7 linked regions of the Homo sapiens genome follow. The protein of the gene in region 6 interacts with the protein of the main gene of each other region in a biochemical or structural test. Each region holds a gene or a part of one and is shown on either strand. Other genes may lie near its edges.

Evidence for each region.
Region 1: the proteins of CYSLTR2 (region 6) and PALS2 interact in a test that uses a peptide from one of them, tested with the Homo sapiens proteins (one large-scale study listed by IntAct).
Region 2: the proteins of CYSLTR2 (region 6) and PALS1 interact in a test that uses a peptide from one of them, tested with the Homo sapiens proteins (one large-scale study listed by IntAct).
Region 3: the proteins of CYSLTR2 (region 6) and PDLIM2 interact in a test that uses a peptide from one of them, tested with the Homo sapiens proteins (one large-scale study listed by IntAct).
Region 4: the proteins of CYSLTR2 (region 6) and PTPN4 interact in a test that uses a peptide from one of them, tested with the Homo sapiens proteins (one large-scale study listed by IntAct).
Region 5: the proteins of CYSLTR2 (region 6) and PDZD8 interact in a test that uses a peptide from one of them, tested with the Homo sapiens proteins (one large-scale study listed by IntAct).
Region 7: the proteins of CYSLTR2 (region 6) and DEPTOR interact in a test that uses a peptide from one of them, tested with the Homo sapiens proteins (one large-scale study listed by IntAct).

The regions. Positions count from the first base shown.
Region 1 is NC_000007.14:24,691,530-24,695,851, reverse strand, and holds the end of PALS2 (protein PALS2), read right to left. Parts: 3' UTR 1,659-4,322; downstream 1-1,658.
Region 2 is NC_000014.9:67,247,270-67,251,970, reverse strand, and holds part of PALS1 (protein PALS1), read right to left. Parts: intron 1-4,701. UniProt on the Homo sapiens protein: Plays a role in tight junction biogenesis and in the establishment of cell polarity in epithelial cells.
Region 3 is NC_000008.11:22,586,554-22,591,254, forward strand, and holds part of PDLIM2 (PDZ and LIM domain protein 2), read left to right. Parts: intron 1-2,744; coding exon 2,745-2,821; intron 2,822-3,042; coding exon 3,043-3,188; intron 3,189-4,701. UniProt on the Homo sapiens protein: Probable adapter protein located at the actin cytoskeleton that promotes cell attachment. Necessary for the migratory capacity of epithelial cells. Overexpression enhances cell adhesion to collagen and fibronectin and suppresses anchorage independent growth.
Region 4 is NC_000002.12:119,762,117-119,766,817, reverse strand, and holds part of PTPN4 (tyrosine-protein phosphatase non-receptor type 4), read right to left. Parts: intron 1-4,701. UniProt on the Homo sapiens protein: Phosphatase that plays a role in immunity, learning, synaptic plasticity or cell homeostasis. Regulates neuronal cell homeostasis by protecting neurons against apoptosis.
Region 5 is NC_000010.11:117,275,953-117,279,487, forward strand, and holds the end of PDZD8 (PDZ domain-containing protein 8), read right to left. Parts: 3' UTR 1,322-3,535; downstream 1-1,321. Other genes in the region: SLC18A2 (synaptic vesicular amine transporter), read left to right, coding at 1,210-1,314. UniProt on the Homo sapiens protein: Molecular tethering protein that connects endoplasmic reticulum and mitochondria membranes. PDZD8-dependent endoplasmic reticulum-mitochondria membrane tethering is essential for endoplasmic reticulum-mitochondria Ca(2+) transfer.
Region 6 is NC_000013.11:48,708,497-48,712,596, reverse strand, and holds the end of CYSLTR2 (cysteinyl leukotriene receptor 2), read right to left. Parts: 3' UTR 1,371-4,100; downstream 1-1,370. UniProt on the Homo sapiens protein: Receptor for cysteinyl leukotrienes. The response is mediated via a G-protein that activates a phosphatidylinositol-calcium second messenger system.
Region 7 is NC_000008.11:119,928,764-119,933,464, reverse strand, and holds part of DEPTOR (DEP domain-containing mTOR-interacting protein), read right to left. Parts: intron 3,651-4,701; coding exon 3,527-3,650; intron 1-3,526. UniProt on the Homo sapiens protein: Negative regulator of the mTORC1 and mTORC2 complexes: inhibits the protein kinase activity of MTOR, thereby inactivating both complexes. DEPTOR inhibits mTORC1 and mTORC2 to induce autophagy.

The sequences.
Region 1 (4,322 bases), on a different chromosome or scaffold from region 6:
CTATATTTTAACCTTCCCCAACACTGAAATTCTTTCCTTGAGTGTGTCTTTGAAAACCACCAAATCGGACTGGGATAGAGAAAACAATGATTAGGGCTTCTGTTGTAGAGGCAAGTGATCAATTTATTTATTTAGGTGGGAAACACTAAATGACTTTAGGGGCTTTTTACAAAGACTGTTATCACTTAAAAGAAATTACCTGCAGAAGACTGAAGCTGGACCGCTTCCTTACACCATATACAAAAATCAACTCAGGATGGATTAAAGACTTATATGTAAAACCCAAAACTATAAAAACCCTGGAAGACAACCTTGGCAATACCATCTGGGACACAGGAACAGGTAAAGATTTCATGACAAAGACACACCAAAAGCAATGGCAACAAAAGCAAACATTGACAAGTGAGATCTAATTAAACTTAAGAGCTTCTCCACAGCAAAAGAAACTATAAACAGAGTAAACAGCCTACAGAATGGGAAAAAATATTTGCAAACTATGCATCTGACAAAAGTCTAATATCTAGCATCTATAAGGACCTTAAATTTACAAGAGAAACCCCCCCCACCCCCGCCGCCTTAAAAAGTGGGCAAAGGACATGAACAGATACTTCTCAAAAGAAGACGTGTGTGTGGCCAACAACCACATGTAGAATAGCTCAATATCGCTGATCATTAGAGGAATACAAATCAAAACCACAATGAGATACCATCTCACACCAGTCAGAATGGCTATTATTAAAAAGTCAAAAACTATCAGATGCTGGCATGGTTGTAGAGAAATGGGAACACTCATACCTTGTTGGTGGGAGTGTATATTAGTTCAACTATTGTGGAAAGCAGTACGGAGATTCCTCAAAGAGCTAAAAGCAGAACGACCATTTGACCCAGCAATCCCATTACTGGTTATATACCCAGAGGAATATAAATCTTCCTACCATAAAGACATGCATGCAAATGTTCACTGCAGCACTATTCACAATAGCAGACACAAATCAACCTAAATGCCCATCAATGACAGATTGGATAAAGAAAATATGAGATATATACATACACCATGGAATACCATGCAGCCATAAAAAAGAATGAGATCATGTCTTTTGCAGGAATATGGATGGAGATGGAGGCCATTATCCTTAACAAATTAACACAGGAACAGAAAACCAAATACTGCATGTTCTCACTTCTAAGTGGGAGCTAAATGATAGTATCTTATAAACACAAAGAAGGAAACAACAGACACTGGGGTCTACTGGAGTGGGGGGTGGGAGGAGGGGGAGGAGCAGAAGAGATAACTATTGGGTACCAGGTTCAGTATCTGGATGATGAAATAATATGTACAATAAACCCCTGTGACACGTGTTTACCTATGTAACAAAACCTTCACATGTGCCCCCAAACCTAAAAGTTAAAAAATGCAAACAGTTAAAAAAAATTATCAACGCTAATCAGATATCCTCCATTATTATCTCTAAACCTTAGTTCTACCTATAAATGAAACACTTTTTTCCAATAGTAAATATTTCTTTATATATACAAAAATATTTTACCAGGAGTATATAATCTCACAGATTAGACATTTCAATAATTTTTGTTTTGGACAGCACATGGAAATATGTGAAAAGATTTATAGGGACAGTTTCTGAAAAATCAATACTTAATTGTACCACAGGAAAATTTTATTTATACAACAGCAATAATGTTTCTTTTATACAGAAACTAATAATACAATTACCTGGAAAGCAGTAGCAATTAATTTTTCTTTTTAAACTTCTTAATCAGAAACTTTAAGCAGCTTGTTCAGCTTTGATTTTCAGATTGCTAACAAGCATTCTGCCCTCCATTTTTTTTTTTAAAGATTCTCTTCTACAGTTACTTCAAAAACTAGAGGTTTAAAAAAGCATGCGTCTTGTGTTCAAATAAAAGACTTACCAAAACGAACTGGCGTGGGGGGAAAAGGAAGAATAAAAAATTCCCACAGCAAGGTTTTCACATCAAATACTCACCATAGGCTCCAACAGAGCTCAACATAACATGGAGAAATTGCACTTGTTGCTGAATACTAGTGCTCATTCTTCTACAACAGAGTCCAACATATCACTTCTTTAAAAAAAAATCAGTGTTACTGAAGAGACAGGAGCCAGTCAGCAGTTCTTTTTAAAAGAGAATACAGAGACATAAGAAATATTTTTATTGTATTTCAAATACAGATGTAGCTGAGCTATGCCTGAAATCTGGTTCTACCTGAAAAGATGGAGGCATTTCTCATTTAGACCATGTTTACCAGGACAAGCTTTATGTCTTTAAAGCAATGTTACTTACACTACTGTCCACCTCTCCTATTTAAGAATAAGATGAAAACCACACATTTTAACTGGTAATGACTTCTGGTTTAATGTTGGTAATTTACAGCTGATGAGTTTTTACATCAGATGAGTATGCTTTTTTCCTGTTTTAGTTAATTAGGCTTCCTCCAAGCTCCTAGGCTACTTTGATAGGAGGAGAGCCAAATTTCATATATGACCTGTCATATTTATGTATGTTCCTTCCCCTGGCTTGCTGTTGGCTGAAGTACAATAAAGACATCTATTTCCAATTTTAAGACCTTTTTGGCTTCTGTGGTAGCAACACCACCTATTTCATAAGATTCAAAGACAGTTGCTTTACAAGCAGTAAATCACTCAATCTTCTGATTGGTGGCATTTACCTTAACTATAGATGTGTTCATTCCATTTACACTGGAGATTAGAAAACAGTAAGAGCCAGTAGGAGGGGAAAAAAAGGAAGAGAACTATCCCTTCTGATCGACTTTTGTATGTGGAGATAAGTCAAATTTATCACACCATTGCATTATCAGCCAATGACTGAGAAGCAATTACAAAGTAATAACTAAAGTGGATTAATATCTGGATTTTGAGGTTCACAAACTAAGACCTCACTGTGAATGTTTCTTTCTATAAAGAAATAGATGCCTTTTTAAATTAATGGTATGGGTAAAACAGTAGGGCTGCAGTGATTTCAGGTATGCAGTGATTTCAGGTATAAGGATAAAGTAGGACAGTTTTCGGGGGCAAAGATCAGAGTCTTCTGGTGTAACCGAGTACTGGATTGCTTGCTTACATTTTGTTTGATTTGTGAGTGGTCTGGTTGGCAGCAAGGATTTGCTAAGGGTTTGGATTTAGTATGGGATTATAAGATAAAAGGGACTTTCTGATTAGGACTAAGAGAGCAGAACAGACCTTCCACCAGCTGAAACTGTATCTTTGGGGCTATTTTAAAACTGGAAGAATTCCTGAAAAGTATTCACCATTCACTACATTACTTCAGAAACAGGTACACTTTAAAATAACTAAAAGAGAACAGATAAAGTAGCCTAATAAGGATTTTTCAGTTCACCATATCACAGCTACCACATCAGAGTTACAAATTACAAATCAGAATTTAAGGCGAAGACAAATATTAACTTAGCCTTACTTAACAAGTAGAATAGTAATGATAAAGGGAAATATAAATTTCATCGAAGATCACACAGTCAGAAGTCAGAATTAGGATCTTGGCCAGTACCCTGTCTTTACTTTTATCACTAGAGAATATTTTTTAAAAAGTACTGCAGTGTATTGCCAAAGTGGTGTGAACCATGCTTACTTTAGAAATGAGATATCATCATTCTTTCACTGTTTAGTATATTAAGGACTCATGTTCGAATCTCTGCATTTTTCAAAAACTATTCCAAGAACACAGAAGCTAGCATGATGAATTATGGGAAATATTTTAAAAAGAATATAAATTGCAAAACGTTAGAACAAAAATGCAATTTAAAAATAACCTTACCTTAAAAAAATTATAGAACTGTCATCTTCCTCAGGTATACAATATATGCTTGCATAAAAACTGACAAGATGCTCAATTATTAGTCAAATGTATTCTTAAATTTTGTGAGTATTCATTTGTACTATATACAATAATCCCATTATTTAAAAGAATGAATTTCTCCCAAAAATTCCAAATACATTACAGATGTTATTACATGAATTCTCACAGCAAACCTCTTGAAATAAGACAAGGGCAGGTATCATAATCTCAGCCTGAATCATATTAAAGATTCATTCAAAAGTTTAAATAAGAATTTCCAAAGGGGTTTCCATCCAGAACCCTGCCCTTTTTCCCTAAGAAAATTAAATTTATTATAATAATGACTACTTTCTGAGTTTCTCATATATTTTTCAGAAAGATTATCAGCTTCAAGGTGGAACCAGAGCGTTTTAAAACAATCTAAAAAAAGTTTCAGAATGTCAAAGAAATGGGAGTAATTAAAAATTTTAGAA
Region 2 (4,701 bases), on a different chromosome or scaffold from region 6:
CTGTCATTTAGGAGTTTCATTAGATGGGCATGATTAAATTACTGGCCATTGGTGACTGGCTATCTCTAGCCCCTCTTTGCCTTCCCAGAGGTTGAAGGTGGGGCCCCATGCCTTGGTCTTTCTGGCAACCAGCCCCTAACCTGAAGCTATTATAGGGGCCTGCCAAGAGTTGACTCACTGAAACAAAAGATGCTCTTATCACCCTCATTCAAACAAAAGACTCTCTATGCTTAAGAAAATTCCAAGGGATTTAGAAGCTCTAGGTCAGCTGTCAGGGACAAAGACCAAATATATATTTCTTATTGTATCACAGCCATATTAAGGGCTGACATACTAAGACAAAAAGATACAACCCACTATCCTACCCTTAAGGAGCTTATTTACAATTTACAGGCTCAAAGTTCTTCACTTTAATTCAACTACTTTTTTTTTGAGACAGGTTCTCGTTCTGTTGCTGTTGACCAGGCTGAAGTGCAATGGTGCCATCATGGTTCACTGCAGCCTCAACCTCCCACACTCAAGAAATCCTCTCACTTTAGCCTCCTGAGTAGCTGGGACCACAGGCACACACCACCAAGTCCAGCTAATTTTCGTATTTTTTGTAGAGACAGGGTCCCACTGTGTTGCCCAGGTTGGTCTCAAACTCCTGGGCTCAAGCGGTCCTCCTGCCTCGGCCTCCAAAATACTGGGATTTCAGGCATGAGCCACTGCGCCAGCCTCACGTACATTTTTAAACACTAGGTAAAGTGGAAAATGGCTTTCATCAAAAAGTTTCTAATCTTACCAAAAAGACAATGTTAAAATAAGTCTTAAGGCAGGCTATATTACAGACAAAGCAGAAAAGCCAAGGGCTTTGGGATCAAATAAAATTAATTCAACTCCTTTCTATCACTTATAATAGGACTATGGAAAAAATATTTAATCTCTCTGAGCCTCAATTTCCTCATTTGTAAAAAGAAGAATGCTGACAAAGAACTTGAAATGTAGTTGTTAATATTTAAGAAATACATACAAAGGATACAGCATACAGCATAACACATTAAGAGACACAGCGAGGGATACAATTCTGGATAAGAGGGGAAAGCAGAAAGTATTGTGATTTGGTCAAATGAACTATCAATCTTGCTATAAATTTTAAGTATAAAAGGATAAGGTATAAAAAACAGAAGGATAAGATTCCTTTAGGATGCCTACAAAAACTATGAAATTTATTTTCGTTAACTCTAAGTATGTACTGATTACCCTTATGCAAATCATTATTGTGAAAAACATTTGCAGGTCATTTATACAGTCGATGAATCACCTGGATCAGAGACCTGTATCTGGGGTTCATGACTTTATTTCCATGAATCCCTGCATATTGTATGAACAGTGTGTGTGTTTCAGAGGAAGGGCCCAGATGACTATCAGAATCACAAAACAATCTGTTTAACTAGAATTTTTTGTTTAATATTAGACAGTTAAATCTGCATGTCCAGTACACATAAACTGGAGTTTATACAGTTTTCAATGTGAGGCAATGTGATTTCCAATACTAAGACAGAAGAACCACTGTTTAACACATAACTTATTTTCTTCCAGATTTTTTTGGTCAGTAAATATTTGAGTGTCTAGTACTTCTGAGCATAAATGAACATCAAACAGTAGTCACAGCTCTCGATAATTTACAGATGAGTTACAAAAAAGAATAAATTGTTAATGCATACTTTACTAAAATTTTAAGAACTAAAACTTATTGCCAGTAGGAGGGTATGGAACGTTCCTGGAGGAAGGAAGAGTGGGTGGCTGAATTTTAAATGAAATTATGAACACAGCCTCTTGGAGAAGGGTTACTTTCGTCTATCTACATCAATGGTTTTCAAGTTGTAGGATGTGACCCATTTGTGTGCCATAAAATCGCTCTAGTGAATCTCAACCAGCTTCATAAAAAACAAAATAGAACAGCTTTATCTTGATAGAAACTCAGAAAAAAAGACTTTCCGAAGCGTTACTTACATTTCAAACATAACACAAAAATGAGTATCTAAATATGGATACTCTAAGTACAACCAAGTCCTAGCAGAGCACCTAGCTCACTACATTCATAGGAAGCAATCACGTTAAACGAATGCAGTCTTAAAGGCACTTCTAAAACACACAAGCAAAATACAGATTGCCTACTTCTTACATCAAAACAAAATAATGTATTTTAAGTTACATTCTCAAACCTTTTCTGTGACAATGTAAAACTCTCAAAATATAATGTTTTCACACAAAATCCTCAACTTTTTGTGTGAAGTTTCTCAAATTGTGAAGCCAATTATGATTTATATCAAAAAAGCATAACTCAAAAGATAACTATAGACACATAATTAAAATTTCTAATATTTGAACTTATTAGATATACTACAAACTGTAAAAACCTGACTCTCCTTAATTATTTCACATCTGTTGGTTTGTGACAAAGCACTGTGCAGTCTTGAAACAAAAAGTGAATAAGTGAATATTTATTAAGTATCTGCTATGTGTCAGATATTTTGCTAGGTGCTTTCCATATCTCAGCTTGAATTTTTCAATCATCTTTCAAGGTGGCTACATGTCATAGGTGAGAAAAGTGAGGCTTGGCCTAGAATTACAGCATGAAATAAATACCCCAAGCTTCCTTTTACTACATTACTACAATTACTGTCATTTCTCCTGCTGATTTTTTGCCTTAAAACATTGGTATGAGGCCAAGCATGGTGGCCCACGCCTGTAATCCCAGCACTTTGGGAGGCCGAGACGTGCAAATCACCTGAGGTCAGGAGTTCAAGACCAGCCTGGCCAATATGGTGAAGCCCCATCTCCACAAAAATACAAAAATTAGCCAGGCATGATGGCGGGTGCCTGTAATCCCAGCTACTCGGGAGGCTGAGGAGGGAAAATAACTTGAACCCGGGAGGCAGAGGTTGCAGTGAGCTGAGATCATGCCATTGCACTCCAGCCTGGGGGACAGAGTGAGACTTGGTCTCAAAAAAAAAAATTGGTATGTAGGCCAGGCGTGGTGGCTCATGCCTGTAATCCCAGCACTTTAGGAGGCCAACTTGGGAGGATCACTTGGGTCATGGAGTTCGAGACCAGCCTGAGCAACACAGTGAGACCCCATCTCTATCTCAAAAAAATAAAATAAAAATGTTGGTATGTAAACTAAGTCCAGAGGTCAAATCAGGCACACCTTATTTTTATAAGTAAAGTTTTATTGGAAAAGTCATGCTCATTTGTTTGGCTACCTCTGCCACTCTAACAACAGAACTGAGTACTTGCAACAGAGACAATATGGCCCACGAAGCTAAAATACTTACCGAAAGTTGTTGACCCCTGCCTTAAAGAAGCAAAATGCCAAGAACCCTGGAGGCCTCAAAATTTCAACGTCTTTGAGGGTGTTTGAGACTATTAACTGAAGAAGAAACTATAAAATTATATGAGACAGAAAGCCAAATGTTTTAATTTTTATAATGTTATATCATAATCAAGAAAATTTAAGTCCTACTAAAATGTAAAATGTAGGTAGGTAACTGTTAATGAATACCTTGACTCTACTGACTTCATTAAGTATTTTAGTTCACAAAATCTTATATTTGGTTTCCTTTTTTTTTTAAGAAAAGAGATCTTGTTATGTTGCTCAGCTGGACTCAAACTCCTGGGCTCAAGCGACCCTCCCACCTCAGCCTCCCAATTGGCTGGGGCTACAGGCATGTGACATTGCTCCTTCATTTTTAAGAATAAATGTTAATGTATATTAGTTTTTAAAAATCCAAAATGATTTTTGTTTAAAATAACCCCAGAGTTAGTCCCAGAAACATGCAAATATGGTTCAACATTTGAAAAATCAGTGTAATTCACCATATTAACAGATTAAAGAAAAAAGTTCACACAATCATCTCAATACATGCAGAAAAGGCATATGATAAAATTCAACATCTATTCATGATTTAAAAAACAAACCCTCAGTAACCTAGGAACAGAAGAAAACCTCCTTAACCTCCTTAACAGAATGCACAAAATGACCTACAGCTAATATCATTTTTTAAAAGTGAAAGACTGAATACTTTTCCTTTAAGAAAGTGAGCAAGAAGCCAGGCACTGTGACTCATGCCTGTAATCCCAGCACTTTGGGAGGCTGAGGTGGGCAGATCGCTTGAGCCCAGGAATTTGAGACCAGCCTGGGCAACATGGTGAAGCCCTGTCTCTACTAAAAATACAAAAAATTAGCTGGGCATAGTGGCACTTGCAGTAGGTCCCAGCTACTCAAGAGGCTGAGATGGGAGAATCAACTGAGCCCAGAAAGTCGAGGCTGCCGTGAGCAGTGCTGCGCCACTACACTTTAGCCTGGGGATAGAGTGAGACCCTATCTTAAAAAAAAAAAGTGAACAAGATAAAGATGCTACTTCTCATCTCTCCTATTCGACATCTCAGTGGAAGTCCTAACCAAGACAATACAGCAAGTTAAGGAAAAGAAATAAAAGGCATACAGACTAGAAGGAAAGAAAAGTTTTGAGCACGACTGTCTACTTAGAAAATTCCAAAAAAAATTACTAAAATAAAAAAGCTCCTAGAGCTAATAAGGGAGTTTAGCAGAAAGTCAGGATACAAAGTCAATATACAAAAATTAATTTCTATATACCATCAGTGATCAACTGGAATCTGATTTTTTTAGATTACCATTTACAATAGGACCAAAAA
Region 3 (4,701 bases), on a different chromosome or scaffold from region 6:
TGGAGAAACACTGGTCCGGGCGACGGCTGATGTATTGGGGCTGGGGGATTTTTTAGGGGGAACCTTTGTTCTGAGATGAGCCAGGAATGAGCTTGTTTCAAGAGGGCTGGTCAGTGTCAGTCCTGGCTCTGTTCCGCGACACCTCTGGTGGGCTGTGGTCTCAGCAGGACCCACGTGCTCAAGGGCAAGCCTTCCCGAGCTTCCCCATCGTGTTGCCCCCAGTCCAGGAAAATGAAGGGTGTGGGAGGTACAGAGGCATGGCTCCCAAACCAGCGGCAACACCTGAGAACTTGTTGGAAATGCAACTTCCCAGGCTCCAGCCTACACCCGCTGAATTGGGCATGGGGCTTGTGGGTCACGAGCCCAGAGCTGGGTGTGGGGAGACTCACTTGGGTCGGTCCCACCTCTGCCTGACGACTTGGACCAGCCCCCCTTCCTCTCCCTGGGCCTCAGGTCAGACTAGACGCTCTGAGTTCCCTTCTCTGACCTTGATGACTCTGCTCATTCCTTCGGCAAATATTTGTCGAGCAGCTGCTTCATGTCAGACACTCATCTGGGCTCTGGGGATGCAATCGTGGAAAAACAGAGTGACACCTCTGACCCTATGGAGCTGACGTTCTAGTCTACAAATGAGGCTGTGGTCCCACGGGTGCACAAGTCTCAGGGTCCCACAGCTGCCTTTTGAGAATCACTGTGTAGCTGGGTGCTGTGACATGTGCCTGGAGCCCCAGCTACTCCGGAGGCTGGGGCGGGAGGATTGCTTGAGCCCAGGAGTCCAGACCAGTTTGGGCAACATAGTGAAACCCCCATCTCTTTAAAAAAAATCGCTTATACTTGAGAGTCTTAAAGGCTCTAAGAGGTCCCATGAGAAAGAAACCCACTTAATTTTTCTTTATATCCTAAACTTGTTGAACAGCAGAATTTCTCCTGAATTTCTACCCCTGACCCCCTGCCCTGCCCTGCCCCACCCCCAGGAACATCCTTGCGTTCCCCAGCACACATTTCGAGAGGTGTTGGCTACAGACAAGCTCATGATGGGCAGGTGAAGGGGGAGCAGCTTTCCTGGATTTGGAGATAAAAGGTCTCTTCTGTGAAGGCAAGGGTCGCTAACCCCTAACCGCCTGGGAGGAAAGGAAGGAGAGAAAGACATTGTCTCTCCCAGTCGGGGAGCTGGTCTCCTTTTCTGGGCTGGGCAGTCTGGTGGGAGTGTGTGAGAGGAATGCTGTGGGCTGCAGAGGCAGGGGTGCTGTGTCCTTGTGGCCTCCTGACATGGCCAAGGCTGCAGAGAGCTGGAGGCTCAGGATGCCCTTATAGTGCCTCTGGAAATTACAGGTTCCCCCTGCTGGTAGGCACATGCCTTGGTGAGCAGAGGCCAAGTGAAAAAAGCCCCTCTCCCTCTGGTTGGGAATGAGGACTTGCCTCATGAAGGGATCCCGGGCCGGTGCCCTAGGCAGGGCCCATGGTGGTCTGTCTGGAGATGTGATGTGGCTCGTGAATTCCTGCGGAAACTATCTCTAGGTCCTTCAGGTGACCGCACAGCCCCGGGCAGTTGCCCTGGAGCCCAGGTGTGGAGTCCCAGCCCTGCCTCTGATGCTGCAGGTGGCTTGGACCAGCTACTTTGCCCTTCTGACCTGCAGTCTCCTTACCTATAGAACGTTTTACTGGAGAACCCTGAGAGCAGAGGGATGCGAGGCCAACTGCTGGTAGCAGCCTGGTGGGGTGAGGGTCTAGGGTTGTTTTCTTAAGATCCAGAAGTTTTTGCTTTAGCTTAAGGATGTGTGCAATTTTCCATGTGGCTTCATAATTCATCCATGACTTTGAATTTTAAAATGGAGAGAAGTTGGCTTCCCAGGAAATGGTGCCCCTGGCCCTGGGCATCGGCCCACCTGGCTGTCTCCAAGGCTCTCCTTCCCAGTGGCTGGTGCGGGCTCCGGGAGCTCAGCTGAGTCCCATTGGGGTGGCAACGGAAAGGGAGCAGGGGAGTGGGGAGTACGGAGATGCAGGCTGGAAACTGGCCTCCAGGAACAACTGTGAGGTTGAAGGCGAGATTTCCATGTTGGGAGCAAATTTAAGAGCCCCAGATGGACACGGCACACCTGGAGACAGGCACTGCTGCCTGAGTGTGGCCCAGGGAGGGCTCGGCTCCCCAAAGCTCCACGGGGCAGGCCCAGACCTCCCAGCAGAGTAGGGACAGGCTGGTTAGCCCAGACTCCCGCCTCTGAGGAGAGGAACCAGCTCTCCTTGGGAAGAGGGCCTCTGCCCTGGCCGGCCCTGACTCCCAGGGGACTTCGACCCCTTGCTTCATCCCTTTATGTTTCTATCTCCTCAGTGCAAAAGGGCAGCGTGCTTCCTCTCTGCTGGTTCCGTGGGATCGGAGCCAGGCCCCAGTGTGCAATGTCTTTGCACACAGATAATAGCGTGCGTGACAGAGGACTCTGTGCTTAGCTGTCACCTGCTGCCTTCCTGCTGCCCGGTCCCCGGCAGAACCCGCATGCCTCCCTCCCTCTCTGGACCCTGGCAGTCTCTGCGCCCTGGCTCCGAGGGAAGGGGCAGGGGGCCCGCTGGTCGGCGAGGGCTGGGAGCCCCCGACACCTTGGCTCCAAGGGAAGGGGCAGGGGTCCGCTGGTCGGCGAGGGCCGGGGGCCCCCTGGTGTCGGGCCTGGGAACAGCCGGGCTAGGCCCTCCTGGGTGTGTTGGCCCAAGGCTCTGGCCCTGACTCCTCCCCGGCTGCCTCCTCCCAACAGGCCGGCCTCGGCCGCGCTGGCGACTCGGCGGTGCTGGTGCTGCCGCCTTCCCCGGGCCCTCGTTCCTCCAGGCCCAGGTACCAGCAGGCCCCGGAGGGTCGGGTTGGGGTCTTGGAAGGCTGGGAGGGGCAGGAGGGAGACGGGCTTCCCCGAGAGGGATGGGGTCCCCCAAGCCCAGTTGGCTCCTCCACCTCCCAGATTCCTCCCCCTCCCCCACGCTCTTCTCCTGCCCCCCACCCCCTTGCTTGCCTAAGCTCCGGCACGGGACCCTCATTCCTGGCTGCCTCCCACCCTGCAGCATGGACTCGGAAGGGGGAAGCCTCCTCCTGGACGAGGACTCGGAAGTCTTCAAGATGCTGCAGGAAAATCGCGAGGGACGGGCGGCCCCCCGACAGTCCAGCTCCTTTCGGCTCTTGCAGGAAGCCCTGGAGGCTGAGGAGAGAGGTGAGGGTCTGGGGGGCTGGGGAGGGGAAGGAGGTTCCCTTCCGTACCCCGGGCCCTGACTGGATGGGTCAGTGAACCAGTGTTCTTAAGTGCCTGTGAGGTGCTCACCCCAGGACTAGGCACGGAGCCGAGCAGAGCGCGAAGCCCCAGCCCCTGCCCATAAGGAGCTGACGGTCCGGGAGGGTCCGGGAGGGTCACCAGCGTGCTCCCACAGAGTAGTGGGCAGTAGCCAGCTGGGATGGGAAAGTGTCATTCGAGTGATAAAAGCGGTGGCAGGGCCTGGGGCTGGGCCTCCAGGGAGGGCTTCTTGGAGGAAGAGGGATTTGACTTGGCCTCTTGGCCTTAGAAAAAACATCAAGACTTAAACAGCATTAAGAGGGTGGCAGGAAGCACTGTGGAAGGTGGAGGCTGGCGGCCAGAGGGCTTTGGGGTGTGGGAGTGAGAGAATGGGGGCCTGATAGCATGAAAGGGCGCCAGTGGAGGCCAAGCCCCTGCAGTGAGGGCCCTCGGGAAGGGAATCAGGCTGAGGAGTGCCCTAACCCAGGAAAGCCATTAAATACTGATGCCAGGCGAGCAAGACATACGGAGGCTTGCCAGAGTTCCGTTATTCATGTGACAGACACTGACTGTGCCCATCTGAGGGACCAGATGTGTGCAGAGTTTGGGGATAGGTGGCCATGACCCCACTCCTGCCCTTGGGGAGCTCCGTTCATTGGGGCAGATGGGCCTGGCCAGCTCCCATGGAAGTGAGCGCTGCTGTGGGAGTTACTACTCCCACAGCCCCTGTCCTTAAGGTGCTCAGCACCAATGCCCTCTAGAACAGTGGGGAGAAGGGGAGGGAGATGACAGGACAGGTAGGAGAGTGGCCAGAGAGGCTTCATAATTCATCTATGACTTTGAATTTTAAAATGGAGAGAAGCTGGTTTCCCAGGAAATGGTGCCCCTGGCCCTGGGCACTGGCCCGCCTGGCTGTCTCCAAGGCTCTCCTTCCCAGTGGCTGGTGTGGGCTCCTGGACCTCAGTTGAGTCCCATTGGGGTGGCAATGGAAAGGGAGCAGGGGAGTGGGGAGTACAGAGATGCAGGCTGGAAACTGGCCTCCAGGAACAACTGTGAGGTTGAAGGTGAGATTTCCATTTTGGGAGCAAATGTAAGAGGCCATATGGACAGGGCACACCTGGAGATTGGCAGGTGGCTGGTTCTAACGCTGATGTTTAGCTCCAAGGGGCATTTGCAGAGGCACAGGGGGTGGGGTGAGAAGGTTTGGAGCAAATCTGGTCTGTTTTGACCCTGAGGCCTCAGAAGGTCCCAGGAGGCAGCACAGGGAGAGAGCAGTGACTTTGCCAAGGAGGCCTCAGCGTCCTTAGCTGCAGACGGGCGACAGCTGCCCCGTAGCCCTGGGCTTCATCTTCGTGTGGCTTGAGAGCTCAGATGTGACAAGGCATGGAAAAGCACTTTGAAAGCCACACCGAGGCATTGCGCTCCTGTTGCCATCTCCAGTTATTATCTAATCACA
Region 4 (4,701 bases), on a different chromosome or scaffold from region 6:
TACTCAGTTTTCAGTTCTAATCTCATATCTATATTGCCCTATTTCTGGTTCCTATCATCCCTCCCCTGGACCACTGCAACAGCATCTGGTCTCTCTGCTCCATTTCTAACCTCATCCTTGCATTATCCTTGTAACTTTGCATCATTATCTAGAAGTCAGGAGTTACCTTTCAAAACCTGCATCTAATCTTATCATCCCTTATTTAAATACCTCTAAATTGTTCCTGAATGTTAATGCTGATTTCCCAAGAGGCAGACTAAATGCATGTTTAGGGCACCAGTAACGCAAGGGCACCAAAGAGATATTTCACACACACACACACACACACACACAGACACACACACACACACACACACACACACACACACGCGCGCACATGCGCATACACCAGTGAAATGGGGGAGGCAGCGGGTAAAGGGAGGGAAAAAGAGAGAGAAAGAGGAAGGTGACTTAAGAATTCTTAAGTTTACCTTAAGCTTACTTTAGGATTTGATATTTATTTCTGATTCCATAGTGGATGCCAAGGGTGAGTAGGAACCATAAACTTTCTAATACTTACAGTCTCTAAAACAGTGGTTTTCCCAATCCTTTTCCCAACTTGGCAACAAAGAAAATAATAATTTCTTAGCACGTTGGGATAAGCCACAAATGCTATTCAAAGCCAAAAGAAACCATCCTGGGGCAGGGTGGGGAGGGGGATCTGATATGCCCAGGTCCCATTAAACAAGGGTATCTTGCTCTCCGAAACACTGGTAAACCATTCATGGCACACCAGTTGGGAAGCTCTATTTTAAAGGTCTTAAAATGATCCCACTCATTGCCCAAACACAAGGACCCTCACAAGACTTCATTTCCCACTGCAATCAACGCACATGCGCGCGCGCACACACACACACACACACAGATTCACACACAGGAACAGACAACCACACCCACCCAGACAGAGACAGACATATCCAACAAGACAACTTACATTTCTCCAAACACACCACACATTCTTTCATACTTTGACTTTTTCTATATGCTGTTCTCTCTACCCAGATCAATTCCAAATGATCCTCCAAGACCATATTCAAATGCCACTTCTTTTCCCCAGATCTTATTACACTGTCACTATGAATTGTTAATTGTTTGTTGACATGTGTTACCACCCTAGAATTTGAGCTCAAGGACAAGAATCATGTCTTATTTACCTTTATACCACTGCTCCCACTACAATGGGCATTTCAAATGTTTGCTTAACATATAAAGGAATGTTCATTACATCATCACCAAATAAATTTTCAAATTACATTAATTAAAACAATGAAATACAATTATAAAATTAGCATTTTTTTCTTCCCAAAACAAGAACAACCACTGTAGGTACTTCTGTAAGAGAGAGATCTGGCACAGAAATATTCATGACACTTGACCATTATCCCAGTCCTAGGGTTTTAAACTGAGGAAATAAACAAAAAACCGCTTAACAAAATGTAAATGTCTAAATCAGTTATGGTATATCACCTGAATGTTTAACTAATCACTTAAATTATATTCATTGACCTTGGTGGCTTTGGGTAGCTAAAATAAATAAATAATATTCATGAAGATGGGAATAGAAAAATGAAAAAATAATACCAACTATCACTGACTGATCATCTCTTGTATTTAAAGCACAGCGCTAGATGCCTTACATATAGTATCTTAATCCCCACAATTCAAGACCACCTGACTCAGAAATGAGACACTTTGCCCAAGGCTTTTGACGCTAGATTCCACACCAGATTTGACTCCTGACTCAGAAATCAGACAGTTTGCCCGAGGTTTTTGACGCTAGATTCCACACCAGATTTGACTCCAAAGTCTGTGATCTTTCCCCTACATTGCACAGCCTCCACCATACAATGTTCCCATTATATTCCTCTCAAAATTCTCTCTACCACACAACTTTATTTTTTAAATATGAACAATTACCTGGAAAGAAACAAAAAATAGCTATTATGGTGGTGATCAAGGGTAAACGTTGTTACAGTATTTATCCTTTTTAAAAATTAGCAACTTTTAAAAGTAGCATTGTTGAAAAATGAACTAAATTCATAAGACAATACAAAAGACGCTATTCCTATTTTAATTTTTTTAACCTAAGAAAATTAAGGAAACAGAGTAGGTAACATAAAAACTTAAGAAAAAAAAAAAGCTTAAGAAGATATTAAACTATATCTAAACAAGCATATATTAACCTTAGGGTACTTATTACCAGGATTCATTAACTGATCCTTGTGAGTGGATTAAGCAGCATTCTTCCAGAAACAGGTGAATTTTGAAAAAGGTTTAAAGAGGAGGCACATGAATTGGAGACAGAGATGTTTAAATTATGGAAACGAGGACAAAGGAAAAAACAAGACTATTTTCTTTTTAAGCACGAATGAGAAACAAGGTTAATGAGATGAAGTTGGTAGAAAGTCTTCAAGGTCAAGCAGGTAAATTTGGGATTAATTTGATAAGCACCGGGGAACTCCTATATATTTTTAAACGGGAAGGTGGCATGTTAAAATATGGCCTTTAAAGATTCAAACTTTGTTCCATCATAAAGTACTGCCTTGAGTTACACAATGTTTTTGCCGAACAGTTGGGGAGGTGGGGAATAATCCACTATCCTTTATGTGTGCTTTATACATACGCTTCTCAAAAAGAGAAACTGACTAAACAGAAATCTTTAGGTAATGGGTGAGCATATTGGGGAGGGGATCCTTTCAGACATAATGCTTGTGAATATTGAATGCTACTGTATGTTTTAATAACAGTCACAGAACTTCAGGCAAGAAGGAACCTTGGAGATAATCTCTTAGTGGCGACCCCTTCATTTTCACACCAGATTAGACTGAAGCCCAGAACTAAACAACTTGCCCAATGCCATGCATAAACCAGTGGAAGATTAAATACTACAACTCAGATTTTCTAAGCAGTCAGACCTAAAGCTATGCTCTCCAATACTATAGCTACTAGCCACATCTGGCTATAAATTTAAATTGATTTAAATTAAATACAATTTTAAATTGAGTTTCTCAGACACACTCGTCACATTTTAAGTGCTCCATAGCCACACATGATTAATGGCTACCATAACTAACAGTGCAAAAAATATTTCTATGATATTTGTCAATTATACTTCAATAAAGTTGAAGGAAAAAAGAATATTTCCATCATTGCAGAAAGTTTAATTGGACAGAACCGATCTAAAGAATAAGTTTTAGAGAATTCCACTTACTAGAAGTATGAGCCTAGACAAGTTATTTCATTTCCCTTAGCTTCTATTTGGCAGGGAGAGGACAGGGGATTAATAATACCTACCTCATAAAGCATACTTGGTGAGTGGGACAACATGAAAAGCCCCTTATACAGGATCTGACACTTAACAGACAATAAATATTAACACTCTTCCCCTCTGGGTCCTTTTTTCTTTCTACTACTCTATATAACCTCCTTGTTAAAAAATACAAACACAATAACCAACCCAAATTGATATTTTCCTCATGATAGTCTATACGATGTAATTTTCATTTTGTTCTTACTAATTAATTCAAATACTTGCATCTCTCTTCCAAAGTTTCTACTTAAGAATAATGAAATGAAGAATGAATGTGAGGGAAGATATCTCTAATGAAATGAAAGAGTCTAATAAATTTCCCCTCCTCTTTTTCCCCATTCATGCAAAAGATAAGAAATTATGCTGTTCCTAGACAATGGTACTTTCATATCAATAAAGAAGATTCTACGGTATTTCTACATTATATCCTATCTCATCATCTATACTACTCATTAAATATTAAATGAAGAGATAACACCTCCTTCCTACAGTGCTTTCCTGGCAAACAATAAAAAGGATTTTCAGAATGCTAAGCCAAACTTCAAGGCTTCACAGCTTATTCTAGTAAACTGGCAAATTTAACAAATCTGGATTATAGTACATAAAAAACTTCATAACATGCAATAACCCAGGAAAACAACAAAATTCAACTCAGTTAGTAAACTTCTACCAATAACTAAATTTTACATAGGAGCAACAATTCATATTTAGCCACAATAACCATTCCTAGGGAGTTGATCAATTTTGCATTCTAACTAAGAATTTAGGCAAAACTTTAAAACATTTGCCCCTAAACATACACCAAACAAGATTTCCACGTTTCTGGAAAACTTTTCTTGTTTAAAAGTGGCCATATTAACTCTCAAGCGGGGGGCAGAAGTACTCTCAATAACAAACCTCCTTGCAATTTTCTGCTAGTCTCTTACTTTGCTCCTTAAAGACAACTTACTAAAAACCATGATCACTGATCCCGCTTTTAGAGTTTGTAAGTCATAAATAAATACTAAACAGATAACAATGGATACTGTACTGTACACCTCAATTATGTTTAACAGACAAAACTATTTTAAAAATACAAATCACAGTTTAATAACAACCTAACGAAGTCATACAAGTTAAAAAAAAAAGCTGAAAAGTTTTTATTACCATCTCACGTAAATTGTATTACTATCCCACTTTATTATACTTTTTTTTTAAAGTTAGGCATCTATGCTCAAACTGATTAAATCGAGTATGAGAGATCTATACTTTTTTTAAAAGTCCTTCAACAATAATGAAGTGTACACTGGTCACAGAATAGTTCAAATGAAATTTCCTGAGGCTGCATTCTAAGTACATCCGACCCAGAAAGT
Region 5 (3,535 bases), on a different chromosome or scaffold from region 6:
GTTTTGCCTACTAAGAAATCTAAGGGGCCATGACAATATGGTCTTAAAAGATTGGGGGCCAAGCATGGTCACTTGCACCTGTAATCCTACCACTTTGGGAGGTTGAGGCAGGAAGATCACTTGAGCCCAGGAGTTTGAGCAACCTGGGCAATGTAGTGAGATGTCATCTCTACAAAAAAAAAAAAATTAAAAATTAGCCAGTCTTGATGGCATATGCATGTAGTCACAGCTACTCGGGAGTCTGAGGTGGGAAGATGGCTTGAGCCTGGGAAGCAGCAGTGAGCTGAGATCGCACCACTGCACTATGGCATGAGTGACATTCTGTCTCAAAACAACAACAAAAGATTGTAAGGGCAGCCTGTGAAGATATCAGAACTGGCTGGGTGCAGTGGCTCGTGTCTATAGTCACAGCACTTTGGGAGGCTGAGGAGGGGGGATCACTTGAAGTCAGGAGTTTGAGACCAGCCTGGCCAACATGGTGAAACCCCATCTCTACTAGAAATACAAAAAAAGTAGCTGCGAGTGGTGGTGCACACCTGTAATATCAGCTACTTGGGAGGCTGAGGTGGGAGGGTTGCTTGAACCCAGGAGGTAGAGGTTGCAGTGAGTCAAGATCACAACACCGCACTCCAACCTGGGTGACGAAGCAAGACTTCATCTCAAAAAAAAAAAAAAAAAAAAGAAAGAAAGAAAGAAAGAAAAAGATACCAGAACCAGATTCATGAATGCAAACAATGGAAACGGGTTGTAGTCCAGACTTAGGTACATTTCTCACATGTGAGGGCTTCTCTCATTAAGGAGAGAGCACATCCTTTCAAGGTGTGTTGCTACAATGACGTCTGTAAACAGAAGTTGGACTGGGTGACCTCCAGGATCCCCATACCCCAATTCCAAGATTCTAAGTATAACAAACCTAACCTGCCTGTCCCTTGCTTCATAGAGTATAAGTTCCCAGAGTGGACTTATGGCCCCTGACAGGTATAATGAAAATACTGCAGAGACCACTTCTGTCTCCAATTGCCTGGAATTTTTAGAGTGTAGAACTACAGGTCTTTTAGGTCAGGCGTCTGGCGATTGCTCCAAATGACTGGTTAATAGCAAGTAATACTACATAGTTTTCAAACTAATAATCCTTAAAAACAGTAGGTTAAAACCATCTTATCTTTATGAAACAAGAAGTTAATATACTTGCACTTTGCTCTCTTTTAGGCTATTCTCATGGATCACAACTGCCCTATTAAAACAAAAATGTACACTCAGAATAATATCCAGTCATATCCGATAGGTGAAGATGAAGAATCTGAAAGTGACTGAGATGAGATCCTCAAAAATCATCAAAGTGTTTAATTGTATAAAACAGTGTTTCCAGTGACACAACTCATCCAGAACTGTCTTAGTCATACCATCCATCCCTGGTGAAAGAGTAAAACCAAAGGTTATTATTTCCTTTCCATGGTTATGGTCGATTGCCAACAGCCTTATAAAGAAAAAGAAGCTTTTCTAGGGGTTTGTATAAATAGTGTTGAAACTTTATTTTATGTATTTAATTTTATTAAATATCATACAATATATTTTGATGAAATAGGTATTGTGTAAATCTATAAATATTTGAATCCAAACCAAATATAATTTTTTAACTTACATTAACAAACATTTGGGCAAAAATCATATTGGTAATGAGTGTTTAAAATTAAAGCACACATTATCTCTGAGACTCTTCCAACAAAGAGAAACTAGAATGAAGTCTGAAAAACAGAATCAAGTAAGACAGCATGTTATATAGTGACACTGAATGTTATTTAACTTGTAGTTACTATCAATATATTTATGCGTTAAACAGCTAGTTCTCTCAAGTGTAGAGGACAAGAACTTGTGTCAGTTATCTTTTGAATCCATAAATCTTAGCTGGCATTAGTTTTCTATGTAATCACCTACCTAGAGAGAGTTGTAAATTATATGTTAACATGTTATCTGGTTGGCAGCAAACACTAAAGCCAATAAAGGAAAAACAGTAAATGTTCCGAAAGCAGAGAAAAGCAACCAAACATATTGTTATGAACTAAAAGCTTTCCCTTTAAGATGCATACTTGTCTTACTGGATGAAGAAAATTGAGGGTACATGTACCTTATACTGTCAAGGTTGTTTAAACATGATAAGGTTAATCGCCATCTACTTCAAGTTTTAGAAAAGGAAACAAGAAGCTGAAAACAGCTGCTCTGACTTTAATATCTGACTATATCTTTGATCTGTTTGCAGGTCATCCAAGTGTTTTCTAGGAATATATTTATTTTAGGTTGTCTGAAACTACTATTTTTTAGACTCCTGAAAGTTGTTCACATCAATGTGAAGACAAATTTTAAATGAAAATGAAGAATGAAATTATGTCTTGAATCATATATTAAGAAGTAAAAATAATAGTGATCAGGCAGAAAAGAAAAATGGAACATCTAAAAATGTATGTGCTAACTATATCATCCAGTGTGCAGTGTTGTGTATTTTTCTAAGCATGACAACATTGATGTGCCTTTTCAGTGTAACAGCAAATACTGTTAGTGAACATTGTCAATTTATGTCATTTTGTTAAGAGATATGACTGGAGTGTGCAGTGTGGAATGTCTCTAATACTACTTGTGAATCCTGCAGTTCTATAATCATAAACAAAAATTACTTAGTTTCGTTAAGCTAAGATTGTGTTTGTGTTAACTTCGACATCAAGGAGCAAAGAACTTTAGAACAGACTCCTCAATCTTGTGACTTTCTTATTCTCTAGGAAAGTAACACTTCGTTTCATGAAGCTTTTCTGTGGGGCTTCGATTATTTCAAGTCTGGTTTCTAAGTGCAGTGTGTTTGAAGCAAACGAACTTCCAACTCACTTATTTGGCATTGGGCAACTTGGCCAAGTCTGCCACTTTGGAAGATGGCTCTGGAGGAAACTCTCATATGGCTAAAAAGGCAGGCTAGTTTCTTACTTCTACAGGGGTAGAGCCTTAAAAAAGAACGTGCTACAAATTGGTTCTCTTTGAGGGTTTCTGGTTCTCCCTGCCCCCAATACCATATACTTTATTGCAATTTTATTTTTGCCTTTACGGCTCTGTGTCTTTCTGCAAGAAGGCCTGGCAAAGGTATGCCTGCTGTTGGTCCCTCGGGATAAGATAAAATATAAATAAAACCTTCAGAACTGTTTTGGAGCAAAAGATAGCTTGTACTTGGGGAAAAAAATTCTAAGTTCTTTTATATGACTAATATTCTTGGTTAGCAAGACTGGAAAGAGGTGTTTTTTTAAAATGTACATACCAGAACAAAGAACATACAGCTCTCTGAACATTTATTTTTTGAACAGAGGTGGTTTTTATGTTTGGACCTGGTAATACAGATACAAAAACTTTAATGAGGTAGCAATGAATATTCAACTGTTTGACTGCTAAGTGTATCTGTCCATATTTTAGCAAGTTTACTTAATAAATCTTCTGAACCATGTTTTGTGCCTGTTTGTATTCCTTTATAAACCAAATGTTGTTGGAATAAAATACATAA
Region 6 (4,100 bases):
TCTATTTTCAAATTCTTTTCCAAACAGAAAAATAAATTCTCTACAGAAAGCCATGTCCTCTCCTAACCCATCTTTGGCCAGTTTGACATAATCTCTACTTCAGAATAAACTGAAAATCAGCTTAATCAAATCCAAAATAAAGAATTTAACACAGTTACAAAATATAATGGCATTTGCTTCTTAGGTCCCCAGTGAGAAAGCACAGTTCCAGTCTCATAATTCCACCAAAGTTTACACAACAAAAATCCTTTCTCCCAGTTGAACAAGGTATGTACTTGCTTGAGGAAATACCCACTCTAACAAAAAGAGCTGTGTCCAAAACCCCAGGACACTTTTGGCTTTTGCTATGGTAAGTAAAGAGTTCCATTTTGTTTCCTCTCCAAGGACATATTTCAACAAATAGGAGGCTTCACTCTGGCTGGAAAAAGGAAAAGTAAGCCATTACATCTCTGTCTCTGTCTGTCTCTCACATACACACACCATAGACATTAATAATTCACAACCCCTCTCTTATGCTCATCCTAAGGACCTTGGTTGCTCTGTTACTCCCAGCTTTATTTGGGCCATTTTGCCCTTGGAAAGTTGTTAAGGTTTCTCATTGACAATTGAAAATCCCTACGACTTCACAACCGAAATTCAAAATTTAACTTTTGCCCTTCTTCCTAGAGCCTGCATTTCCCCCCACCCTCCAAAGCTGCCCGGCTGCCTGCTCAGTTACATGCCACACCCAGCATGGATGCTTAGCTGGTTGGCAGCTCTCTCTCCACCTCATTTGCAGTACATATGTGGCCTCTGCAAGCCCCATTTCACCCCTTTCCCAGATGAGATTTCAGCGGGTTTCACCTCAACTACTTTAGGTGTGTACTGTCATCATCCTCATTCAGAGTAATCCATTCTTCATTAGTTTGCTTTAGAAACAAATAAGGAAGTGTGTAGTCTCAGGCTGCTTGCAGTCAGCTTGTTTCCATGAGAGGATTCACCCATGTGGCAGAGCCAACATCTGGGGAGGAAAGCCCACAGATGTCCTGGTTGAACAAGGCCTGAAGTCCAACTTCCCTCGGTATATTTCAGTTATATGAGATAATCAAATCCCTTTATTATGTAAGCCACTTGGGGTAGGGTTTTCTGTTACTTGCAACTAAAAATATCCCAAGTAACATATCAAAATCTCTCTAACCCCAGAAAGTGACTTTCCTCACCCCAAGAAAGGACTTGCCTCCCATGGCAGGACTAGATGGGCTTCTCTCAAGAACTGAAATACAACTCTGGTCCTTTCCTGCTTTCCTTTCTTCTGTCAATGTTCAGTTTCCATTTCTGATGGGCTTTCTTGTCTTTTTTTGTTTTTGTTTTAAAAAACAACTCAGAATTAGTTTGAATTTTAAAATTTAATTTTAACTTAATTTTTATTTTACTTCAGAAATACATATTCACAAGTTAGGCAATTACACAGTTCGTAAAATAAGTCCCCACCCTATCCTCCCACCCCAGCTTCTCCATAGAGGTAACCCCTGCCCATTCTTTCTTCTGCTTCTACCTGTATTTACCTCCTATTGCTAAATAATATGGTTGTACAGCTATTCATCATTTTCCAGATTTAGTTATTATGCATTTTCTGTGATAGAATATGGCAACCTAGGTCTCTTATACCTCTCCCACACACGTACACATCTTCTCCCTTCATTTCCTGAAAAAAAGGTTATATCACAGTATTTCACTCCAGCAGCACCCCCTTATCTGTGGGAGTTGCATTCCAAGACCCTGAATACGAATAGCACCAAACCCAAATAGTACCAAACCCGATTGCTGTCAATTGGAACACATTTCTGTTCATGTCTTCCACCCACAAATTTAATACCTTTTCATCTTAACTAAGTGTTTATCACACACCGTGGGGTGTAATAAATAATTTTTGCAGCTTGTGGTGCAACAGCAAAACTAGCACAAATTTCTTTTGCCTTCTTCACAATTTTACAGATGGATTTGTTCTTACTGTAGATCTTAGCAACTTCAGCATGTGTTTTTTTTCTTTCCTTATTAAGTCAAGAACTTTCACATTTTCTGTTAGAGGAAGCACTTTACAGCTTCTCTTTGGTGTATCTTATTTGCCAGCATCACTACTCTTATGCTTTGGGGACATTAGTAAGTAAAATAAGAGTGACTTTAACACAAGCACTGTTATACCACAACAGTTGATCTGAGCAACTGGATGATGACTAAGTGACTCATGGGTGGGTAGCATATACATTGTGGATCCACTGGAGAAATCTCACACCATCCCACTTTGCCCTGCCCAGAACATGGGTGGAGGGTGATAGTGCGAGATTTCAACATGCTACTCAAAACAGCACATGTTTTAAAACTTAAGAATTATTTCTGGAATTTTCCATTTAATATTTTCAGACTGGCTGGCTGTAACTGAACTGCAGAAAGCAAAACCACAGATAATGGGAGACTATTATATTCACATTATCCTCTATGTAAATATTATTCACAGCTGAGCCATGTAGTGTACTGTGGTTATATTTCCTCTCTAATACAAAAGTTTCTTTTCCTCTAGCACTTAAAAACTGTATTGCGTTTTTACTTGCTTATTTTTCTATGTATTTACGACTAGTTTATCTCAATCTCTGCAAGAGAAATCTAAATCCCTCTCAATGTGTATGAATCAATTAATTTCTTCTTTTTCTGGGAGACATCTCTCCTAGAGTCCTTTAAGAGTCCTGCTCCAACATGAATGACTTGCTTTCTAAGCCTGCTACACACCAACATCCTGGGAATTCTCTTCACTTTCTCCTGCGTTGGATTCCTTGTTTCCCAGCTACTGTGTTTTCCTCTATCTTGGTTTAATCTCTTATTTTGGAGGATCTTTTATACTCAAAAGGTCTCTATCTACTCTCACATTTATTTGTTGGTGCCTTTCATGTTACGGCCTTTCCCTCAAATGTATTGTGTTCATTGACTACTTTTCATAATTAAGAATGAGGCTCTGACAGGTTGACCAAATGCTGTGAGTGGAAGGGATTTGTTGCATTGTGGGCTTCATCGTCAGGTGAGTAATAGGGCAGACACGCAGCTTTTGTGTTGAAGGATCCTCAACTATTTGTATCTGTCAGCCTTTTTTTCAGATTATGCAGTTTCCCCATAGGAGGATCCTCCAGGGTCCTGTCTTGACAGGGTTTGAGTCTGTCTGTCATCATTCTGGTAGCTAAATAAGGAAAGGGTACTGGGATTTTTGTTTAGTATGATGACTGACTTAGTCCCTCCCTACTTTCAGAATGCCATATCACCTCCACCCTTTACTGTACTATGAGTCAACAACTCTGAAGAGAAACTTTTGGTTTTCTTGTGAGAGTGAGGAGGGGGAGGAAATTGGTAGGAAAGGACAGCTTTTATTCAGACTTTCAACCAATCTTCCTGGAAGTTTACAAGGGTAGTGGTGGGGAGAGCACCCAGCCAACACTTCTGCACAGAGATTTTTAAAACTCTTACTAGCTGTGTAAACTTAAACAAGCTTCTTAATTTCTCTAAGCTTCAATTTCTTCAGCTGTAAAATGGAACTCAGAGCTTTGGTGTGAATGTCAAATGGGATCAACAAATGTAAAGTGCCTGGCATAATCTGCCCTGCAGGGAGACTGCATTCAATTGTTGTCAGTACAATGGTCATGGTGATAGTAGTTGGTAGTATCCTTAGCCTTGTTTCAGTGGACAGAAAGGAACCTCTCACACTATCTAGTGTTTTTCTACACTATCTCAAAAGGGAAGGCAGCATCTCCCTACTCATCTTCTGCGGAAATGTTAATAGAATTTCAGGAGTGCAACAACTTTTGCTATTTGCCCTCTACTCCATCTTTCCCTTGAGTGCTCAACCCTAATCCTCAGAGGCACCTCTTTTATTTTTGGCTTCCATCCCAATGAATTAATGGGAAGGAGAACTGCAGCAAGGTCAACTAACCTGCATCTCAAAGAAAATTTGAGATACATGTCCTTGATGATCCCCCTTCCATTCTATACACAATTCTTTCATTTCCTAGGGCAATGCCCCAGATCCTCCTCCTACTTTTCCTGTCCTTCCTAATACCCTGGCAAGAGAGAAACAGTAG
Region 7 (4,701 bases), on a different chromosome or scaffold from region 6:
TGTGTGTGTGTCTTGCTCTGTCTCAAAGAAAGGGGGCTTGAACTTCCCAGGTTCAAGCGATTCTCCTGCCTCTCAGCCTCCCAAGTAGCTGGGATTACAGGTGCCAGCCACCACGCCCAGCTAATTTTTATATTTTTAGTAGAGATAGGGTTTCGCCATGTTGGCCAGACTGGTCTCGAACTCCTGCCCTCTGGTGATCTGCCCACCTCAGCCTCCCAAGGTGCTGGGATTACAGGCATGAGCCACCACATATTACTTGAGCCACCTTCACAATTAACTGGAAGCCACAGGAGTCAGTGATTTAGGGAAAGGGGTGAGAGCGGCATGAGTCCTCTAGGCAGAGGGAACAGCACATGCAGAAGTATATCAGATTGCCACTTCCCCACTCCCTCCTCTCCAACGGCCTCCCATTACATTTAAAATCACCAGTTCTTACTGTGGTTTTAAGGGCCTTATTATGAACTGGCCCTGTCTCATCTCCTGCTACTCTCCTCTTTACTTCTGCCCTCTGGACACTCTGGTCTCATTACTGCCCTTAAATATGTCCAGCACATTCCCATCTCAAAGCCTTTATCCTTACCGTTCCCTTTGCCTGGGATGTTCTTCCACCAGATATCTGCAAGGCTTCCTTTATTCAAATGTTGTCTCTTCAAAAACGTCTTCCCCGATGCCCCTATTTAAAGTACCCCACCACCCTCAGTAAGTCTATTTTTCTTTCTTGCACCGACGACACCTGTATTATACTCTGTCACATCTTCATGTGTCTGTGCCTTTAATGTCTGCCTCTTCAACTGAAGTGCAAGCTCATGAAGGCAGGGGCTTTGCTACAGGCATTTCTGGTGTCTTTAGCTGTGCCTAGCATGTGGAAAGGGCTCAATCTATATTTGTTGAATAATTAATGCATTAATGCATCTCCTGAAGGGAAAGAAGATGCTCAGAGATACACAGTGCTGTGTGACTGGCCCATAGGATGGAAGGGAGATCCAACAGAACATGAGGCTGGAGTAAGTCTGCTTTCTAGAAGATGTGAGCAACTTTAACTCTTCTTACTGTCTTGCCATCATAACTATCCCATTAAGCAATAACAGTTCTCTGCCAGACATTTTCAATTATAGCTGATCCCTGCCCCACAGTGTGGTTATGCAGATCCCAAGAGATAAGCTGTAGCTAGAGAAGAGTGTTATAGGTGCAGTAGCTCATGGCTGTAGTCCCAGTGCTTTGAGAGGCCAAGGCAAGAGGATCACTTGAGGACCAGAGTTTGATATCAGCCTGAACAACATAATGAGATCCTGTCTCTACAAAAAGTTAAAAAAAAAATAGCTGGACATGGTAGCATAAGTCTGTACTCCCAGCTACTTGGGAGGCTGAGGCAGGAGGATCACTTGAGCCCAGAAATTGAAGGTTACAGTGAGCTATGATAATGCCACTGCACTCCAGCCTGGGAGACAGAGCAAGCTCCTGTCTTTATAAAATAATAATAATAATAATAATAATAATAATAATAATCTTTTTTAATTAAAAAAAAAGGAAAAGCGTTTACAGAATCCACTGGCCTTCATCCTTGGAGATGACATGCATGTTTTGGCCAACATAGAATCATTGTTTGAAAGGAACATCATTGTAATTGAAATACCTAACACCTGCTAGAATTTTACAAAAGGAACTAAGAAATTAAAAGAAAGTAGCAACAAAACAAATGCACATGTTCAAGTAAACAAATGGAGGTTCTGATGGATCCCTTCCATTCAAATTCATGTGAGTCAGAAAGATGAGAGAGTTTCTCCATTTCAGTATAGAAAGCAAGTGATAGTAGACTGAGTACAAATTAGGACATCAAATGGTGATCATTCCACCTCAAGAAACGGAGACAAGAACTGGGACAGAGCGCATAACACAGGAAGGACACAGTCGAGGGTGGCCGTCAGTACTGTGCTCGTATTTGGAATGGCTATCATCTGTGAGGTCTTACTACACACCAGAGACCCTGAGCTAAATACTTAAGCACTTGACACAGCTATCGTTTAACTCCCACAACAGCACTAGGAGGTAGGTTCTATTGCTGCTGTCATGTCACTAATGAGGACACTGAGCTTTACAAAGGTAAGGTGACAGGGCTACACTTCAAACTCTGTCTGGCTTTTAACCATCATGCCAATTAATCTGACCACTCAGACACCCACCCAGACCCTTACCCCCAACCACTGTACAACAGGCTCTTTTATGTGACAAATATGTTTTGTTTTTTTTTAGTTTTGAGATGATGTCTCACTCTGTCACCCAGGTTGGAGTGCAGTAACGTGATCCCGGCTCACTGCAGCCTCTGCCTCCTGGTTTCAAGCGATTCTCGTACCCAGCCTACCAAGTAGCTGGGATGACAGGCACTCACCACCATGGTGGGCTAATTTTTGTATTTTTAGTGGAGACGGGCTTTCACCATGTTGGCCAGGCTGGTTTCCAACCCCTGACCTCAAGTGATCCACCCACCTCGGCCTCCCAAAGTGCTAGGATTACAGGCATAAGCCACCGTGCCTGGCCGATAAATACGTATTTTTCAATTCCCTCAAGTCTTGTAAGGCAGCCAGGGTTACAAAGCACGTGCCATTGCTTCTGCACCCCTTTTTCTAATGGTTGCCCTGGAAAACTAAATGAGGAAGGCAGAATGGTAAAGAGGCCACAGAAGTAGCAGATCAACCCAGAGATGGCCACTCAGAAGATTCGAGACCCACCAACCAAAAACTCCTGTGCTACACTATACTTATCTCTTGAAAGGGCTGAAACTTGTTCCTCATAGACATCCAGCTATCTGAAGTTCTCTCACTACTCATCTCCTGGCCTGACCAATTCCCCTGCTCTCGATGCTGCTTCTCCAGTCACTTACAAGCCTGAAACTCCAATTTACAAAACAACAGTATTTAAAAGAAAAAAGGGGGCCAAGCACGGTGGCTCACACCTGCAATGACAGCACTTTGGGAGGCCGAAGTTGGTAGATCACCTGAGGTCAGGAGTTTGAGAAAAGCCTGGCCAACATGGTGAAACCCTGTCTCTACTACAAATACATAAATTAGCCAGGTGTGGTGGCTCATGCCTGTAGTCCCAGCTACTCAGGAGGCTGAGGCACGAGAATCACTTGAACCCAGAAGACGGAGGTTGCAGTGAGCCGAGATCATGCCACTGCACTCCAGCCTGGGCAAGAGTGAGACTCAGTGCCAAAAAATAAAAAATAAAAATAAGAGAGGAAAGGGGCATCCACATCATTTGATGGTAAACAAAAATTCTGGAGCTTTGTAGAATCAACTTAAATACAGAAAATAAGATTTAAGTAAATTCTTTATTAAGAACCTTATGAAATTGACTTATTTTCTGGCAAAGAGACAGCAAATGCTTGATAGTTTTCTCATATGGAAAAGAACAGTTATGTAACCAGCCCACATAGAAAAGCCACGCTGAAATCAACATAATGAGACTGGCACAGTTCTGCTTCTTTCTATAAGTCAAGATTACAGGGGGGATTTCATGCGGAACATACTTTTCATATAGCCTCTGTCCTCTCATAAAGGCCTTCACTTCATTATCCAATGGGAAGGTGCCGTCATCCTTTCTAAAGCGGTAGAAGAGTTTGACATCCTTGAATTCCTTATGCTCATCACACACTGAAACACAATATGCACAGAGAAGCAAATGAGAAAAAAAATCGCTCTTATTTAATTACTCAAGCGAAGTATGATGCTAATTAAGAATTATTTCACTATCACATTCTTCATGCATGCAAATATGTACCATATGAGCTAATACTTGTAAAATAGTTACATAGTACTTGGTACAGAGTAAGTCCTCAGTATTTTTAGCTATTATTATCACCATCACCATCACCATAGTCATCATCATCATCATCATCATCATCATATTTAGGAAGTTCACACAATTCAATTCATCATGCAATCCACAAATTCTTCTAAAGCATATTGGGGCATGCATCAGCCTCAAAGAATGTGAAATCTAGTGAGGTAAGGAGAAATGTCAACTGTAATTGAAATATGGTGTGATAAGGCTACAGAGGTAAGGAGAGAGTGCAATGGGAGCCCAAAGGAAGAGTACCCAGTGCCCCAGGAACACAGTGACACAGCTTTTGAAAAAGAAAGCTTCCCTGAAGAGTTTTCATGTAAGTGGAGACCTGAAGAATGAATCGAAATTGGGCAAAAAATGAGGCGAAAGGGTATTCCAAGAGAACGATGGCATGTGCAAAGGTCGAGGCCAGGATGAGAGATTTCAAGAAGACATGTTGGTGAATCTTCATTGAACCCACTGAGAGTAACAGCAAAAACTTGGAAACCATGTAAATGCCCACTGAAAAATGTATAGTGGCATAATTATACATATGTATTATACAACAGCAAAAATAACAAATAAGACATATACTATCAATGTGGATGAAGCTCACAGTGTGTTGATCAAGTTGCAAAAGCATAAATATGCACTTCTATAATGATAGAAAACTTTTAAAACAATATGATGCATTCCTTAAAGATGTATATACAGACAGGTATAAAGCAGTACATAGAAATAACCCAAATGCCAGCTGGACACAGTGGCTCACGCCTGTAATCCCAGCACTTTGGGGGGCTGAGGCGGGCAGATCACCCAAAGTCAGGAGTTCGAGACCAGCCTGACCAACAGGGTGAAACCCGGTCTCTACTAAAAATA